2 separate regions of the Homo sapiens genome follow, and region 1 is linked to region 2. The links come from fine-mapping of genetic effects on gene expression. A gene starts in region 2. The other region holds a variant in brackets. All regions are shown on one strand. Distances are between the middles of the regions. Region 1 overlaps DIDO1 (death inducer-obliterator 1). Region 2 holds the start of DIDO1 (death inducer-obliterator 1).

Evidence for each region. PIP is the estimated chance that this variant, and not a neighbour inherited with it, causes the effect.
Region 1: its variant is the best candidate, but not a certain one, in a credible set for the expression of DIDO1 in gastroesophageal junction (GTEx, PIP 0.65).

The regions. Positions count from the first base shown.
Region 1 is chr20:62,870,434-62,878,754 of GRCh38, reverse strand. It overlaps DIDO1 (death inducer-obliterator 1), which reads left to right. Exons shown (of 16, transcript NM_001193369.2): 16 at 1-1,012. LOC105372717 (a long non-coding RNA gene) reads right to left here. Exons shown (of 4, transcript XR_936989.4): 2 at 3,834-3,982; 3 at 3,578-3,713; 4 at 1-1,968. It also overlaps the pseudogene ARF4P2. Among named protein-coding and RNA genes, the nearest start is that of SNORA117, 8.3 kb to the left of the region's middle. RefSeq lists enhancers at 2,113-2,766, 2,767-3,421. The variant GTA/A (reference allele first, on the strand shown) is at 5,000.
Region 2 is chr20:62,922,661-62,930,981 of GRCh38, reverse strand. It overlaps DIDO1 (death inducer-obliterator 1), which reads left to right and starts at 4,477. Exons shown (of 16, transcript NM_001193369.2): 1 at 4,477-4,543. RefSeq lists silencers at 1,597-1,646, 4,290-4,729, 4,800-4,889 and enhancers at 1,777-1,866, 2,643-3,491, 4,374-4,987, 5,330-5,379, 4,988-5,601 and 1 more.

The sequences.
Region 1 (8,321 bases), 52 kb after region 2:
AACACAAACCTTACAAATGCATCTTTCTTTTGTCATAAAATTGGAATTACAATTTTCAACTGGGAAACAGAAACACATTTCTTAGCGTGCTCAGATTTTATATATCACCTTATCAATTTTTTCCAAAACATGATTTAAAGCAACATCTGTCCTAGTATAATTGTTGCATTTTAAATAACAATTTATTGAAAAATGTTAAGTTTTACCAGCCTAAAAAAAGTAACAAACCAATTAAGTGTACTTTGGGGGCAGGGAGGAGTCCTTGATTTGAATAATCAGGAGTTTTGTTGGTCCAGTTTCGCCTTCTGAGCAGTTCTTCTGTATCCCGGGAAAAGTACGCTCGGCCCCAAACTGGTATTTGTCAGACGATACATGTAAAAGTTTGTCCTTGAACGTGGAACAAGACTTGTGTAAAGTCTGAGACGGGAACTAGTGATCACTAGCTCAAGAACTGCAAATGAGACAGGAAGCTGTTCACTGTGAAACAGTCTCTTGCTTGTCGTGTATTTTTCGAGTACTTCTGAAGTGTGAAGTAAAAAAATCTGGCTAATTTATTTGTACAAATACACTTTGATAATTTTTTATATTTTCATAAACTTTTACAGATGTAAAATTAAAGAACTTCACTTGTTCTTTGGAGTCTGTTATTCCATTGTACGTCACTACAGATTTTTCACTTTATAGCACAGATTTTTTAAGTTAAGAAAACATTGAGAATGTATCAGTTTGAGATGTTTGGTGTTGAAAGCCAAGTGTCCATAGGTTAAATTACATTAAAGTAGGTGTCACGTTCCAACATCTAGTACGATGAGAAGGTTTTGTTTGTTTAACATATAAAGCAAATTTTTCTAATTTAAATACACAAATGTAAAAATCAAGTGTGTTTCTTTAGTTTACTTGATAGAGATTCCTGTACATTGTATTTTATATTGCGGAGGCTTATATCACTGTACATGAGAACATGGAACGACCTAGGTTTTGTTACTCGCAGTAGAATAAACAGCTACAGGAAGTTTCTGTCTCGGGTCTTCATCAGCCTTTTTCTAACGCGGAGAAGTTTGGGGTCGTGCACGGACGCCCTGGCCACCCAGTTTCTTGTTGCTGGTTTGCCTGGGCGTGGGCAGGAGTGCCCTTTGGACCCCTCCCTGAACTCATGCTGAGCCCAGGGTGAGACCGGCCGGGTGCGGGTCCCCACATCCTTCCGTCACGGGGCAGCTGTCTCGCTCCCTGTGGGGACCCAGCACCATCCAGCTCTGGAGACGATGGGCAGGAAGGTCGGGAGGAGGGACTCACCCCCTTCAGACCCTCTCCTGGGGCTGAGTGGGAGCCCGAGACCACTGCAACAGCCTCAACTGCGGTGAAGGAGTCTCATGGTTGGGGAGTGAGCCCCGAGGCCCCAGCCCATCCAGGCTGCAGCAGAGTGTGCACCCGCCGACTGCGGGGCGTGCTGCTGCTGAGGATGCAGGTGGGCAGGTGGGCTTGGCGGCCCAGACCCAGCAGTGCCAGTGGAGGAGACGCGGTGGCCCACGTGCCTGCACACAGCGCGGCTGCAGGGACAGGCTCGGGGAGCTGGCGCCTGGCCTGCGAGCTTCCTCTGGTCGCCTGTGGGCCAGAGCTTGGCTTCCGAACAAGCGTATGGGTCCACAGCCCAGCCATGAGCAGACGCCGGTGGGACGTTCCCGCGCAGACCGGTGCAGGCCCCTTGGCCAAGTGTCTGGTGGGGCAGCAACAGCTCTGAGCAGCCTCCTCCAACAGCTCCAGACCGTGACCTGTGCAGCCAAAGGGCTCACTGTGGAAACATGGCGAGGAAGACCTAGCTCCAGTATGCCCCTGGGGTCGGCCGCGTCCCGGTCAGCCACACCAAGCAGGAAAAGGCCCAGGCCCCGGAGCCCTGGCACCCACAGGCCCACAAGGCACCACAGGGTCACTGAGCTGTAGCTCCCTGTTCTAGCACAGAGGCCGAGGCAGCTGTCGGGGGAAAATGGAAAGAGCCATCTCACTCGAGAACTCGGCACGGGGGCCTCCAACGGGGGGTAACACCCAAAGCAGCCAGCACCCTCCCCACACCAGGCATCAGCGAGTCCCAGGGAGGAGGCGGCAGTGGGGATCGTGGCTGTGGCTGAGCTCAGGGGGCCTAACCAGAAGGGGAGAAAAGGAAAGACCACATGAGACATGCCCAGACGGACAGTGACCTCAGCCCTCAGTGGCAGGGCAGCGCCAGTGAACAGGCTGAGCCAGGGCGAGACTGGCTGGGTGCAGGTCCCCACATGCTGGGTCCGTCTTCCTGTGGGACACCTAGCAAAAGGGAGAAGAACCAAGCCTGCCCAAAACGTCACACCCAGCAGTCACTGCTGTCGTTAATTTGGTATTTTCCTTAATCTTTTTCTCTCTGCATCTAAATTTTGACAAAATCGGGGTCCCTCCAGGAGCACGCTGTGGCCTGGGGTTTGCTCCTCCTCCTCCGGCTGCTCTGCTGCTCCCAGCCGACCTCACTCCAGGGCTCAGGGGACCATGTGGGGACCCTGCCATTGGCTGAGTATGTCTGTTCCACAGGAGGCCGGGAGGCTCACTGGGCCTCCTCAGAGGAAAACCTGAACCAACTCCGTCGTCCGCCTCCATAAACCACAGCTCTGCCTGGCATCTGGGCCTCCTGAAATGAATGTCCTTTCAGCTCCAGGGTCTAGTAATTCCTAAAAGGCCTGATTATTTCCCATTCCCGTTGCACAGACTCCTGATAAACAGAGGAAGATTCCTTTGGGAAGGGGCGGTGGGAAGATTAGCTGCATGTTTTTGGCATTTAGCAGGGCCCCTTCCTCTCGGAGACTCAGTCTGTCCTTCATTCCAGGGGCCTGGGTCTGTCCAGAGTCTGGAACTTGGCCGAGGGCCCCGGACTCTGTGTTGGGGCTTCCAGTCAGAGCGCAGGACTCCTGCTCTCGGACCTACAGCCTTTCTGCCAGCACAGAACGGGGACGCCTTTGGCAGGATGTCCTTTTTTTTCAGTTCTAGGGAAGCTGCGCCCATCAGGCAACGCAGGAACTATGTGGGTCAGATGACTGCGCCTCTGCTGCCGCTCACGGCTGTGCTGGGAATCACGTCCGGCAGGATAGCTCCCGCCAGCCCAGAGCGCCACCATCCCCACTGCATTGGGAGCCCAGCTGCATGGCAGCAGTTCCCGCCGCAGTTTTTCGCCTACAGAAAAGAATGATCATGGAGCTCTTCCCCGATGTGGGTGTGGGTGCGGTGTGGGTGAGGGTGCCAGTGAGGGTGCGGTGCGAGTGAGGGTGCGGGTGAGGGTGGGGGTGGGGGTGAGGGTGGGGGTGAGGGTGGGGGTGAGGGTGGGGGTGCGGGTGAGGGTGGGGGTGCGGGTGCGAGTGGGGGTGCGGGTGAGGGTGGGGGTGGGGGTGAGGGTGGGGGTGAGGGTGGGGGTGAGGGTGGGGGTGCGGGTGAGGGTGGGGGTGCGGGTGCGGGTGGGGGGGAGGGTGGGGGTGGGGGTGCGGGTGGGGGTGGGGGTGGGGGTGGGGGTGGGGGTGAGGGTGCAGGTGAGGGTGCGGGGCTCCCCGATGAATTCACTCCTCACAATCCTCGTGAAGGGGTGACCTCCAAGCCCTAAGGACATCAAGCTGGTCTTGCACGATAAATCCATCCCAGCGTTCTGCCGTCCTCTCCAGTGTGCCAGGAAAGTTCTGGATTTCACTGAATTTAGGGTCAGCTACCTGTGGGGCGAAAGTTTCGGTGACTGATGAAGAAAATGGGGGTGGGGGGTGGGTCACTCCCAGCCGTTCCCTCCAACGCATCAAATCCAGAATCTCGTATCTGAGTCCCTGTCCACTTACGCAAGCTTATATTCCTCCCACCCAGATCCCGCACTCTCAACATCGATTTCCACACATTTTCCGCAGGTTTTCGTAGGGAAACATATTTGTAGGCCACACCTCACACTTTCTCTTTTGGGGCCTGCTGGAACTCCAGTCTGGATCTAGGTCTAGAAGGAACACAGAGGTGGTGGTGAGTCCCGGGCAGGACGGCGGCACCTTACAGGGCAGCTCCCTAGGGAAGGCACTTGAGGGTCTTTGGGCAAAGGGGTCTCAGCTCCCCAGGCAGTGGCAGAAGAGCCACATGTGCCTTCAAAGACGACCTGCGGAGTTCACCGGCAGATCCCAATGGACTTGCAGGGCTCGTGGTCCTCAGCTTCACTGGGATCTTCCCACATGCCCCTGTAGGGACCAGCCCCACAGGGTCGGTGGGCTTCTCCCTGTGTGTGGTGACGAGAGAGTGTAAAAATAAAGACACAAGACAAAGAGATAAAAGAAAAGACAGCTGGGCCCGGGGAACCACTACCACCAATGCGCAGAGACCGGTAGTGGCTCCGAATGTCTGGCTGCATTGTTATTTATTGGATACAAAGCAAAAGGGGCAGGGTAAGGAGTGTGAGTCATCTCCAGTGATAGGTAAGGTCACGTGGGTCACGTGTCCACTGGACAGGGGGCCCTCCCCTGCCTGGCAGCCAAGGCAGAGACAGAGAGGGAGAGACAGAGACCGCTTACGCCATTATTTCTGCTTATCAGAGACTTTCAGTACTTTCACTAATTTGCTGCTGCTATCTAGAAGGCAGAGCCAGGTGCACAGGATGGAACATGAAGGCGGACTAGGAGCGTGACCACTGAAGCACAGCATCACAGGGAGACGGTTAGGCCTCCGGATAACTGCGGGCGGGCCTGACTGATGTCAGGCCCTCCGCAAGAGGTGGAGGAGTAGAGTCTTCTCTAAACTCCCCCGGGGAAAGGGAGACTCCCTTTCCCCGTCTGCTAAGTAGCGGGTGTTTTTCCGTGACACTGAGGCTACCGCTAGACCACGGTCCGTCTGGCAACGGGCGTCTTCCCAGACGCTGGCGTCACCGCTAGACCAAGGAGCCCTCTGGTGGCCCTGTCCGGGCGTAACAGAAGGTTCACACTCTTGTCTTCTGGTCACTTCTCACCATGTCCCCTCAGCTCCTGTCTCT[GTA/A]TGGCCTGGTTTTTCCTAGATTATGATTATAGAGCAAGCATTATAAAGAGTAATTGCTACAAACTAATGATGAAAGATATTCATATATAATCATGTCTATGATCTGTATCTGGTATAACTCTTGTTGTTTTATATATTTTATTACACTGGAACAGCTCGTGCCCTCGGTCTCTTGCCTCGGCACCTGGGTGGCTTGCCGCCCACATGCCCCCATTGCAACGTCAGGTTCCCATTCTTTCCCAACTTCCCTAACTTTAACAAAAGAGGCACTGCAAAGTCGAAACTGCAGTTTAGGCTGTAATTAAATCATCCAGGAGACTAGGCTTCAGGTTTGCTTTGCAGAAATCTCAGCCCCATGGCTACAGGAGATAAGGACTTACTTTAAGGCAGTCATAGAGGCTTTCAGGTTCCTTTTTCAGACTCCAAGCCAGGCATTTAAAGCATCGAGAGCTGGAGCTGCTGTGTCCATCACCAGCAGGTCCTCGTCCTGCTAATTCCTGTCTACAGCTTCACCAGCACATGGGCCAGTGAGATGTCCCTGCCTCCCTCTTTCTTCCTCAGTTCTTTCTCTTCCCCCTTGTTCAATTTGCCTGGAAGCATGAAAGAAGAAAGCACAGGGCCCCCCAAGCCCCTCTGCTTCTGCCCATCACAAGTGCCACGAACCCATGGTCCCCGCCATCTCCTCTCTCTTCTCCCGCCTCTTCAGCAAGAAGCAGATGCACATTTGGACGGTTCGATTGGATGCTGCCTATACATTGTGTATAAACTGAAGTTAGGGGAGGTACTCACCACAGTTCCTGCCATTGGTTTTAACATGGAAAGAGTAGAATATAAGAACACTTGTTTTGGGCCAGGCACGGTAGCTCATGCCTATAATCCCAGCACTTTGGGAGGCCGAGGCAGGCAGATCACAAGGTCAGGAGTTCAAGACCAGCCTGGCCAATATGGTGGAACCCTGTCTCTACTAAATATACAAAAATTAGCCAGGCATAGTGGTGGGCTCCTGTAATCCCAGCTACTCGGGAGGCCGAGGCAGGAGAATTGCTTGAACCCGGGAGGTGGAAGTTGTAGTGAGCTGAGATTGCGCCATTGCACTCCAGCCTGGATGACAGAGCGAGACTCTGACTCAAAAAGAGAACACTTGTTTCATGGTGTGGGATGTTCATGGTCAAGATGTAATTAGGCTTCTCTGGAAGCATTACTTCCAGAATACCCAGGGTTTTCTTTTGCTGGTAGATAGCAACGATCATGAAAGAATTCGGGAAGTGGCGGACGCGCTGCAGAAAAGGCTTCTGGCCGGTGAGTGTGGAGACGCAGCGCCACTGCTCTCTGCAAACAAACAGGGTTTGCCCAGCGCTCGGGCCATCAGTGTGACGACAGATGAGCCAGCCAGCTCTTCAGTCTCTTCCTAACAGGACATGGTATGTTCAAGCCACTTGTGCAACACGGAGCTGGTGTAGATGAGGGACTTGACTGGCTGTCAAATGAGTTTTCAAAACGTTAAATGAAACTAGACATCTAACCAAAGACATGTTTGATAAAATTGGTCTAGACTTGCTACAGCAAAATTTGTTTGTATCTTGGTTAAGAAACAGCATCTGGGACTGGCTTGGGCAGAATAATAAACTTATTTTGTTGCCAATTATTGTTTGCCAAATATAATGTTGTTATTTAGCAATGTGCTTGGTTTTAAAGAAATTCTTCTTGGGAAAAAGGTGTCCTCATTTACTTCCCATGAGCCTAAAGCCTGGACATAGTTATTGTAAAACCTTTAAATAAATCCACCTTGGAAGTTAAGATACATAAAAATAAATAAGGTGGGGCGTGGTGGCTCACGCCTGTGGGAGCACTGTCTGTGAGGAGGTGAATCCCTTGAGCTTGTTGGAGACAAGGCTGGGCAACATGGTGAACCTTGCCTCTATTTAAAAAAAAAAAAAAAAAAAGGCCGTGCACGGTGGCTCATGCCTGTAATCCCAGCATTTTGGGAGGCCGAGGCGGGGGGATCATGAGGTCAGGAGATCGAGACCATCCTGGCTCACATGGTGAAACCCCAAACCCCGTCTCTACTAAAAAAATTAGCTGGGCATGGTGGCACGTGCCTGTAATCCCAGCTACTCGGGAGGCTGAGGCAGAAGAATCGCTTGAACCCAGGAGGCGGACGTTGCAGTGAACCAACATCGTGCCACCGTACTCCAGCCTGGGTGACAGAGACTCCATCTAAAAAGAAAAAAAAAGAAAAAAAAAATTCGGCTGGGCACGGTGATTCACACCTGTAATCCCAGCACTTTGGGAGGCCGAGGCAGGCAGATCACTTGAGGTCAGGAGCTCGAGACCAGCCTGGCCAACATGGTGAAACCCTGTCTCTACCAGAAAAATACAAAAAATAGCCAGGCATCGTGGCATGTGCCTGTAATCCCAGCTGCTTGGGTGGCTGAGGTAGGAGAATCGTTTGAACCCAGGAGGCAGAGGTGGCAGTGAGCCGAGATCGCACCACTGCACTCCAGCCTGGGTGACAGAGCAAGACTCCGCCTCAAAAACAAACAAATAAATAAATAAATAAATAAATAAAATAAAGCACTGACTCACCATTTTCTTTTCCCAGATTATCCAGAGCACTTGGGCAAAAGCCTCCACCCCATTTTTACTAGAATGTTCAATGGCAGCCTTGGTTCCAGAGGCACTTGGTTGAATTTTGCCCATTGATGCTCATTTGCATGAATTATCAGCGCCTCTTTCCCGTGAGAAACGGTTACCAATGCTTTTAAATCAAAGGCAATCAAAGATCCAGCTCCAGAAAACCCAGAACCAGCTTTGATCACTCCACATCACGGAACAGAAAAATCAATTGGCCCAGGAGTCCAAGAAGCTACAGGAGGATGAGAGGAAGGGGAGCAGTTGCCGGCAGGCCTGGTGACCCTGCCCTGCTCAACCTTCCAAGAATTTGAGAGAGAAAGAAAGAAAAAAAACCCTGCTTGCTGCGGTCTGAGTTTGTATCCCTCCAAGATTCATACTGAAACCTAATCTGCACTGTGGTGGCATTAAGAAGAGGGGTCTTTAAAACAATGGCCGGGTGCGGTGGCTCACGCCTGTAATCCCAGCACTTTGGGAGGCCGAGGCGGGCGGGTCACCTGAGGTCAGGAGTTCAAGACCAGCCTGACCAACATGGTGAAACCCTGTCTCTACTGAAAATACAAAACTATTAGCCAGGCGTGGTGGCACGTGCCTGTAATCCCAGCTACTCAGGAGGCTGAGGCAGAAGAATTGCTTGAACCCGGGAGGCAGACGTTGCAGTGAACCGAGATCATGCCATTGCACCCCAG
Region 2 (8,321 bases):
CAACAGGGTGAGACCTTGTCTCAAGGAAAACAACAACACAAACTGCAGCTCATTCTTTCTAAAGGTATCTGGAAAATGACAGAACTGAGAATAACATCCAGATTCAGTTCCCTGCCATGAGAAGTTCCTTTTGCCTTGTTTGTGGATATTGTTGTCAGTTCATTGCAGCTGTCTTGAGTAACTTACAGAGGCTAATGTGACCAAAGAAAGATCCATCATCCCTTGTTGTTTTTCTAGTTAAAAGTCATAGCACAGGTTTCTGGTAACATACAAATGATAAGACACTGTCCATAATTCTAATTACAACAATTCAGTTTGTATAGTAATTTGGTACAGCATTAAAGGGGGTGATGCCCTCCTCCCATCTCATTTCCCTCCCTTTTTCCTATTTCACATTTATTCTTTTGTCTAAAAGACAGAAAATTGGTATGATTCTCATATGCCGCATAGAACGTGTAGCTCCATCACATCCCACAGCTTTCTAGAGGTCTTTGGGGTTGGAACACAAAGTTTAACTTCTGTTTCTGTTTTTCCTTGAATTCTTTTGTTTCCTGGCCCTTTTCCATCTTGCCGGTTCCCCTTATGTTACCCACTATCGTCCATGCTCTCCCTCTGTGTTGGTTGTCTCAAAACAGCATTCAGCGGAATTCATTGAGTGGGTGAATTCTGTGAAGTTGCCTTTTCTGGCAGTGCTGTTACTCAGTGATGCACAAACGTAGCATTTGCCCTTTGGTAGACAAAGATCTGTGTTTTTTTTTTTTTTGTTTGTTTGTTTCTTTGAGACGGAGTCTCGCTGTCACCCAGGCTGGAGTGCAGCGGGTTCAAGCGATTCTCCTACCTTAGCCTCCCGAGTAGCTGGGATTACAGGCGCCTGCCACCACGCCCGGCTAATTTTTGTATTTTTAGTAGAGATGGGGTTTCACCATGTTGGTCAGGCTGGTCTTGAACTCCTAACCTCAGGACCTCAGGCGATCCACCCACCTCGGCCTACCTAAGTGCTGGGAACAGGCTTGAACCACCGCGCCTGGCAGATCTGGTTAGTATTCTTCAAAGGAGCCAAAGGCAGTGCTTTCGTGTTTGCTTTGAGGGGAAGTAGTGGACGATTTGATTGTGACACCTTTTAGCATTGGTGAGTTGATTTATCTAAAATTAACTGTTAAAGTTAGCTGGCCTTATACAACGTAAAAGTAAAGAAAATTCATCAGTTTCTCAAAAAAAAAAAACAAAACAGTGGCTGAAGTTTTTGTTAGCAATAAGAAAACAGTAGGCATATATATATATATATACACTTTTTCTTTTTTCTGGGAATCCACGTTCTCCTCCTGGGTAAAGGAGAGGGTTGTATTTTGTGATTCCTTTTTCCTGCCCCAAGTGGCTGGCGATACAGCCCCCGGCGCGCCGGGCACTGAGGCCCTGGAGCACAGCGTGGGGGGCCTGGCACAGACACGACTCACGACCGGGCCGATCTCCGGCCAGAAAGAACTATGTTCCGGCCGCCCGGGTCGCGGGCCCGCGGTGCATCCCTGCAGGCCTCCATCCTGCCTCGGCAGAGGTCTGCAAGAATCCTGTGGGTGTCCCCCGGAGCGGGCAGAGGAGGAGCCCAGCGCCGAGGCCCAGGCGCGCCCCGCCCTCGCCCCTCCCCGTGCCCCTCCCCCGCTGCTCCCCTCCCAAAGGCCGAGACCTGGACGCTGCCCGGTGGCCTCGGCGGGGGCCCTGTCCTTGGCCGCTGCCTCTCTGAATCCCAGGTGAGAAGAATAAAACGTCCTGACGCTGTCCGGCTTCCGGTTCTTGGAGAGGACGGGCCGTCTCTGCCGAGAGAACTGTGCGGAATCAGGAAGCGCTGGTGCTCCTTCGCTTTCACGGGACTAAGCGAAATCCGGCTTTAAACGAAGTAAAGCCGGCTGCCTCCTGGAGTATTTTTGTCATAGTATTTTTATTTTGGGTCAGGGTATTCTGCTGCGGACCCTGAGTCTTAGGAAGGAGGCTTATAACAGCGGAAAGCCATTTTTTTTTAAGAATTGCTGAGTTTTCCGGATTGTACTTTCAAAGACTTTCCCTGAAACTTTGCGTGGCATGGGGGTTGCAGAAACTGGTGTCTACACATTACAAAAGTGTACTGTTTACACCTATTTGTGATGCACCCATCGTGTTTTTCTCCATGGACCACCTATTAAGCTTCCTGCTGGAGCGCTCTTGGCCCCCTTCCTGCTTTCTGGGCCACATCCTGTTGTAAATCGGTGCTACTTGTGGGGTTTTGTTTGTGAATTGGGGATATTTAAGGAACAATTTATTGAAACAACTGAAGAGTTTGTTTCCTCCTTTGGGTTTTACTTTTAAAATAAATTCGGTTAGGAAAAAGTATTCTTTTGCTAGTGGAGTTCAAATTCAAATACCCAGACTGTAGATTCTCCAAATGCCTTTCTCACCAGGGAGGGCAGCTCCCAGGAATAGTGACGGCAGGTAAGCTGGGATAAAGCTGACTTCGTCACCTTGTAGGTGGGGAAGGCCAGAGTGGATAGTCTGGCCAGGCCTCCACAGCCGAGCCAGCTTCTGCTGGGGGGCGGGGGAGATGAGAACGAGAGGCAGGTTCCAGTATCCTCTGGACTTGCAGGAAGGAAGGCATTCTGCGTATCGCTGAGCACTGCGGTGAGCTGAGTGAGGGTTCCCTTTCCTCATGTTTTCCTGCCTTTTTCTTCCTCTTGGTTCTCTTGTCCCTGAGCCGCCTTGTCCACTCTTTCTATTCCCTTAGTGCCTTTCCATCTATCTCTCCTGAGTGCCCAGCGTGAAACTGTACCCAAGAGTTAAAATCTCTTAAAAATCTCACCGTCTTGCAGAAACAAATTGTGGCTGGTTTAAAGATCCTCAGCTAAAGAGACTGGGCTGAGGTTCCCCCATACCAGTTGGATTTAGAGAGAGCCTCTTGTAGGGAGGCCTCATGTGGTCTTCACCTGGGCCTCAGCATGTGAGCCCTCCTTTAACAGAGAGCTTGCCCAAGATCTCACTGCTTGTTAAAGGTGGTCTCAACCCCGTCTGTCTTCTAAGCTTCCCACTACCCCATGTCTGAGAGCAAAAAGCCCTCTTTGCAACCTGAGATCACACTCAAGATGGAAGACTGTCAAGCCCATCCCTGCCAGATTCTATTAATGTGGTCCTAATGGGCCACACCAGCAAAAACAAGCTGCGTTGTATTCCTTTGAAGAAAACTAAGTCTGCCTCAGAAACTAGCAGACCCTGTAATCTTCAGCGGTATTATTAAAAAGCACACCTGCCTCAAAGCCCCTGGTTCATCCATGGAAGCATCGCAGAAGCCTCTGTATTAGGGGCAGCTTTACGGCACTCTGGGCCCCTTTTACTCTTGGCCAGGGCCAACGCCAAAGGCTAGATGGTCCATGCTTCCAGGTAGCGTATCACTGTTCACAGAAGCAGAAACAAGTAATGGGGCCACCTCCACCCCCCCCAGGTCCCTGCCCTCGGAGCAAGTGGCCAGTGCCCATGGTGCCTCGAGGCAACAGCTGCCCCTCCTGCCCCCTCCCAGTCTCTTTCCTGCAGTATCTGGGGACAGACAGGTGATAGAGTGTCACTCTAGTTACTATTGAGCGAACTGAAGAAAATCCACATGGAAGGTTGACATCTACCATACCTCACTTTCCCCTCTCTTGATAGTAAGTGTCTAATCTTTCCCTCCAACCCCTGTGGGCAAACATGTCCATGCGTTCTTTGAGTTCTAGCTACTGGTCAGTAGTTCTGAGTGTAGGATTGACATGGTGGGAGGAGGCAGAGCTTTGGGACCACACCGCCAAGGTCCCTGGGGCCTAGAGGTCCAGCGTGCCCGCCTCCCTTCCTCGCTGTGCTCCTTTCTCTCCCCCCCACCCCCACGCTCCTGGTTTCTGGAGCCGAGCTTGGGGTGGGGAGGCAGCAGGTAGGGTCTTCAAGTTGGAGAGAAACCCCGCCCACACCTGGACCTCGCCCCTCGCTGCCATTCCCAGCCGAGGCCGTCAGGGGCCTGCGTTTTGAGAAACACAATCTGGAAGAGAAAACCTGGGCCTTTTCTTCTTTTATCCCCTGTCCCCGCCCCCCTACACCTCTTACAAATTTAGCCCAGGAGCTTTCTATCCCCACCGACTTGAAGGGTTTATCGGTCTTAAGAGCGAAATCCTGGCGGAGTGCAGTCCCTCGGGGCTAGCATCCACGTTCCGCCTGCGCCCTGCCCGGGCTGTTCCGAGGGATCCCCGCAAGGGCACTGCCCCAGCTTTCACTCTTGGAGTCGGGGAAATAAGGTGTCCACAAAGGATGCAAGCAAGTCATTGTCAGTGCAGACCCGAAGGGCGCGTCCGGAGTGCAGGTATGAAAGACGGGCGCATGCGCGCAGTCCGGGGCCGGGCTTCGCAGCCCGGGCTCCGCTCTAGCCCCGCAGCGTCTCGGTGGCCGGTCTCGTCCTCCGCCCGCCGCGCGGGGGCGCCGCTCTAGCCCCGCGCCATCTCGGTGGCCGTCCGCCCACTCCGCGGCGTTCGGGGAAATGGCTGCGAGACCCTAGAGGCCTGCGGCCTGCGGTAAGTGGCGTCCCGGGCGCCGGGTAGAAGAGCCGGCCGCCGCTTGGGCCGCCCTCGGGAGCGGGGCGGGGCCGGCATCGGAGCCCGGCTGGCGAGAGCCGCGGATCCCGCACAGGCCGCTCCCGCCGAGAAGATGGCGGCCGCGGAAGGGAAGGAGCGGGCGGGCGGGCGGGCGAGCGGGCGGGGCCGGTCAGAGCCGCCGCGGCCTGGGGCGCGGGCCTCAGACGCCGGCCCTGGTGGGCTGCGTGAGGTCGAGGGGACTGGCGAGCACTCGGTGGTCGCGGCTGGAACGGTTCCGAGGGTGGGAGTCGGGGCGGCCGCTCGCGGGGAAGAGCGCAGGGCTGGCCTGGGCGAGTGCGGCCCGGGGCTCGGGGGCTGCGTAGCTGGCTTGTAAGCGCAGCTGGTTTCCCTAGGCATTCTCGGGGACCTCGGCGCTTCCTCCCGGGCCTTGGGTGCGGTCGGGGTGGCCGGCTTAGCTTCTGGCGTGCCTTCGGGGGATTCCGGCACTGCAGGGGCGGCTGGCGCTGCAGGAAGCGCGAAGAGCCCGGATTCGCTTTTCTGAAGAGTGTGTCCTTACCTCCCCGCGCTGGTTTTCAGTTTTTTTGTGGAATAGTTTGTTGCGTTGGTTTGTACTGGCCGTATTTGTGACACATTTTGCCTTCCAGTGACCCCGGAAGCCGAAAGGGCCCGCTCTTGCGCTCGGCGGGAGGGGTGCTCGTGCTGCCTCCGCTGCGGCGTCCGGGGCTCCTTCTCGCGGTTCTGAGACAGTGGAGGTCAAGGCCGGCTTTTCTGCTCTAAATAAAGGACTTTAATATATAAGTTTAGAGTTTGGGCCACAGGTAGCAGTAGCTTACTGCGTTACCAGTTATTGAAAATACTCTTTAACTTGTGCCTGGGCCTTCGATATCCGTGTCATCTGTCTGCTGATGGAATGAGATTTGAGCCTAGTGTACTCAGGGACTTAGAGGAGGGAAAGGCAGATGGGAACGTCTTTTCGGTATATTCACATAACTTTGCTATATACCCCGTGTTCCATGGTTTCCGTAGGGCCACATATGACTTGGTTGAAATACAGTTCTGAGAAAGGTCCTTAGCAGTGCCTTTTAAGGAGTAAATACAGTCTTTTTTTAAATGAGCATTCATTGCTTACTGTTAGCACGAGGGATACAGCAGTGACCAAGGTGGCCCCTGTCCCAGTCCTGGAGACAAGTTCACTGGGGAACTTGAGAGATTATTCCAGCTCCTTCCTTTAAATCAGGTGTTGCCAACTCGTTTACCTGGAGCCTAGGGCTCTTTAGTGGCCCTTTGGGTTGCTGTTAGTGTATGTGTGTCTGTGACTATTTCACTATTTTAAATACGGCATAGACATCTCAGAAGTGTCACCCAGGAAGACAGACACAGCCCTGTTGTGAAACTCCCTGCTTAATGCACACTTGTTTTCCTACTTGCTGTGTACATGGGGAGGAGATGTCTGTTCTTGTAGACTTGTTTCAGCAAGTTTCATAAGATACCTCTTGTTTTGGAAAAGCGCGTATCTTGAATTTTTTCAGGCTTTCCACCAGAGGCTGTCCCTTATTAGTAGTTGATTGAATTCAGACTATGTCAAGCAGAGCTCATTGTGCTGTGGTGAGAAGACAGGGCACAAATAAGATAATTTGTGATTGACTGCCCAGCCGTACCCATGGTTACCAGACAGCCCAGCCCATGTTGCATGTGCATATGTGAGCCTCGCAAAGGCTTGTCTAGGACGTGCGGATCATCGGTTGGGCCTTGGAGGGTGCTGGGGTTTCTTCATGTAAGGAGGAAATGATTGGAATGGGCATTGGCTCCCGTTTTGTTCGCGGTGAAGTTGGCAGGTTCTGCTGTTGATACTGTGAGTTTTTCTACAGCCTTAGGGTCATAATTCCCTTAAGGTCAGTTCTGTGGAGCCCAGTAGGGTGCTTCTCTTCAGTGTTTATTTTTAAGCTGTGCCACGTCTTCATTGTTTGGAATCTCTGTAAACAAGACACGTTTTTCCTTTTTATATGCCTGTCCCATAATACCAAGTGGCTTATTTGGCTCTTGAAGAGCTAAGATTGAAAGTGTTTAACAGGTGACTCCCTACTATCTGTGGGTCCCTGCACTGTGCCCTTGCCTGAGAGGTCTCATCTCTCTGGCAGGCTCAGAAGACCACTAGAAAATTCTCTCTAAACAGAGTCTCTCACTTACATTTCTTATTTAAATGACGGGGTCCCTTACAGTGGATACTAAGATCAGCCTTTTTATGACTACTATCAAATGATGTGTGTTAATTGCATTACAAAAGTTCTATAATTAACAGTTAATGGAAATGTACTAATTGGGAAAGAGGAGGTCAAAGAACAAAGTCCAGTTTGCTCATTTCATGTACGTGTACACAGTCATCTGTGAGACAGTCTGTGTTGTCTAGGCCTCATTTTATTTTTTGAGTAGTAATTTTGAGGTTAAGTTGTTATATGAAGTTGAATAGGTAATTGTACATATTTTAATAAGAATTCTGTAACCATGTCCATAAAACTTAATAGGCGGTTGTAATCGTGTGTAAGTTGTAAAGGAGGCATTTCTCTCCTTGGGTATCAAATTTTGATGCCGTGGTTTTGTTTTGCGTATGCTGATATAGACATTTAAGTGGTACTTAATATACCTTTATAATAAGGTAAATCAACTTTTTTTCCAAAATGAAGATACCTTAATGTGTTTGATTACAAAAGTAATACACATACAGGAAACTTAAACATTATGTAAAAATAGAAAGTAAAGACACTAGAAAGGGTGCTGTCCAGAAAAGCTCCACGTTACAGCTGTTTTGCACTAGTGAACGGGATGCGTTGGAGGCTGTGGCCACTGCCCTGGCCGGCTTGTCTGCGGCTCTCACTCAGGTGCCAGGGAGTTTTTCTCACGGCTGTGCATGTGATGATTCATCACCCTTAAAGAATTCCCGGCCGGGCATGGTGGGTCGTGCCTGGAATCCCAGCACTTTGGGAGGCCAAGATGGGTGGATCACTTGTCAGGAGTTCAAGACCAGCCTGGCCAATATGGTGAAACCCCATCTCTAACTAAAAATACAAAAATTAGCTGGGTGTGGTGGTACGTGCCTGTAATCCCAGCTACTTGGGAGGCCGAGGTGGGAGAATCGCTTGAACCTGGGAGGTCGAGGTTGCAGTGAGCCGAGACCGCACCACTGCACTCCAGCCTGGGCGACAGTGAGACTCTGTCTCAAAAAAAAAATAATAATAATTAGGCCAAGCATGCTGATGTGCTCCTGTAGTCCCAGCACTTTGGGAGGCTGAGGCCAGAGGCCAGAGGACCCCTTGAAGCCAGGAGTTCCAGGCTGTAGTGAGCCGTGGTTCTGCTACTGCTCTCCAGCCTGGGTGACAGAGCAAGACTCTGTCCACCCCCCACCCCCAACAAAAAGAATTTCACTATATAGATGTTTCTTGATTTTTCAAACTGGTCTGTTAGTTTGTGTTCAGTTTGTCACCTTTGTGAGAAAAAAAACACTCATAAGTTAGTGTGTACTTCCTACTTAATTTCTCCTGGGTCATCGTGAAGCACTCCCTGCCCTCCATGAGAACAGTATGTCACCCGCTCTCTTCCCTGTGCCAAGCCCATAAAGGGCTGTTGGCAAATATGTCGGACAAATAGACTCGCCTAAGAGGGCCTTTCTCTCCAAGCCCTCGCCAGCACAGGCTGTGTCACTTTCTTAGGTGGCACCTACCGTCTGTTGCACACTTGCCGCAGATGATTTGGCAC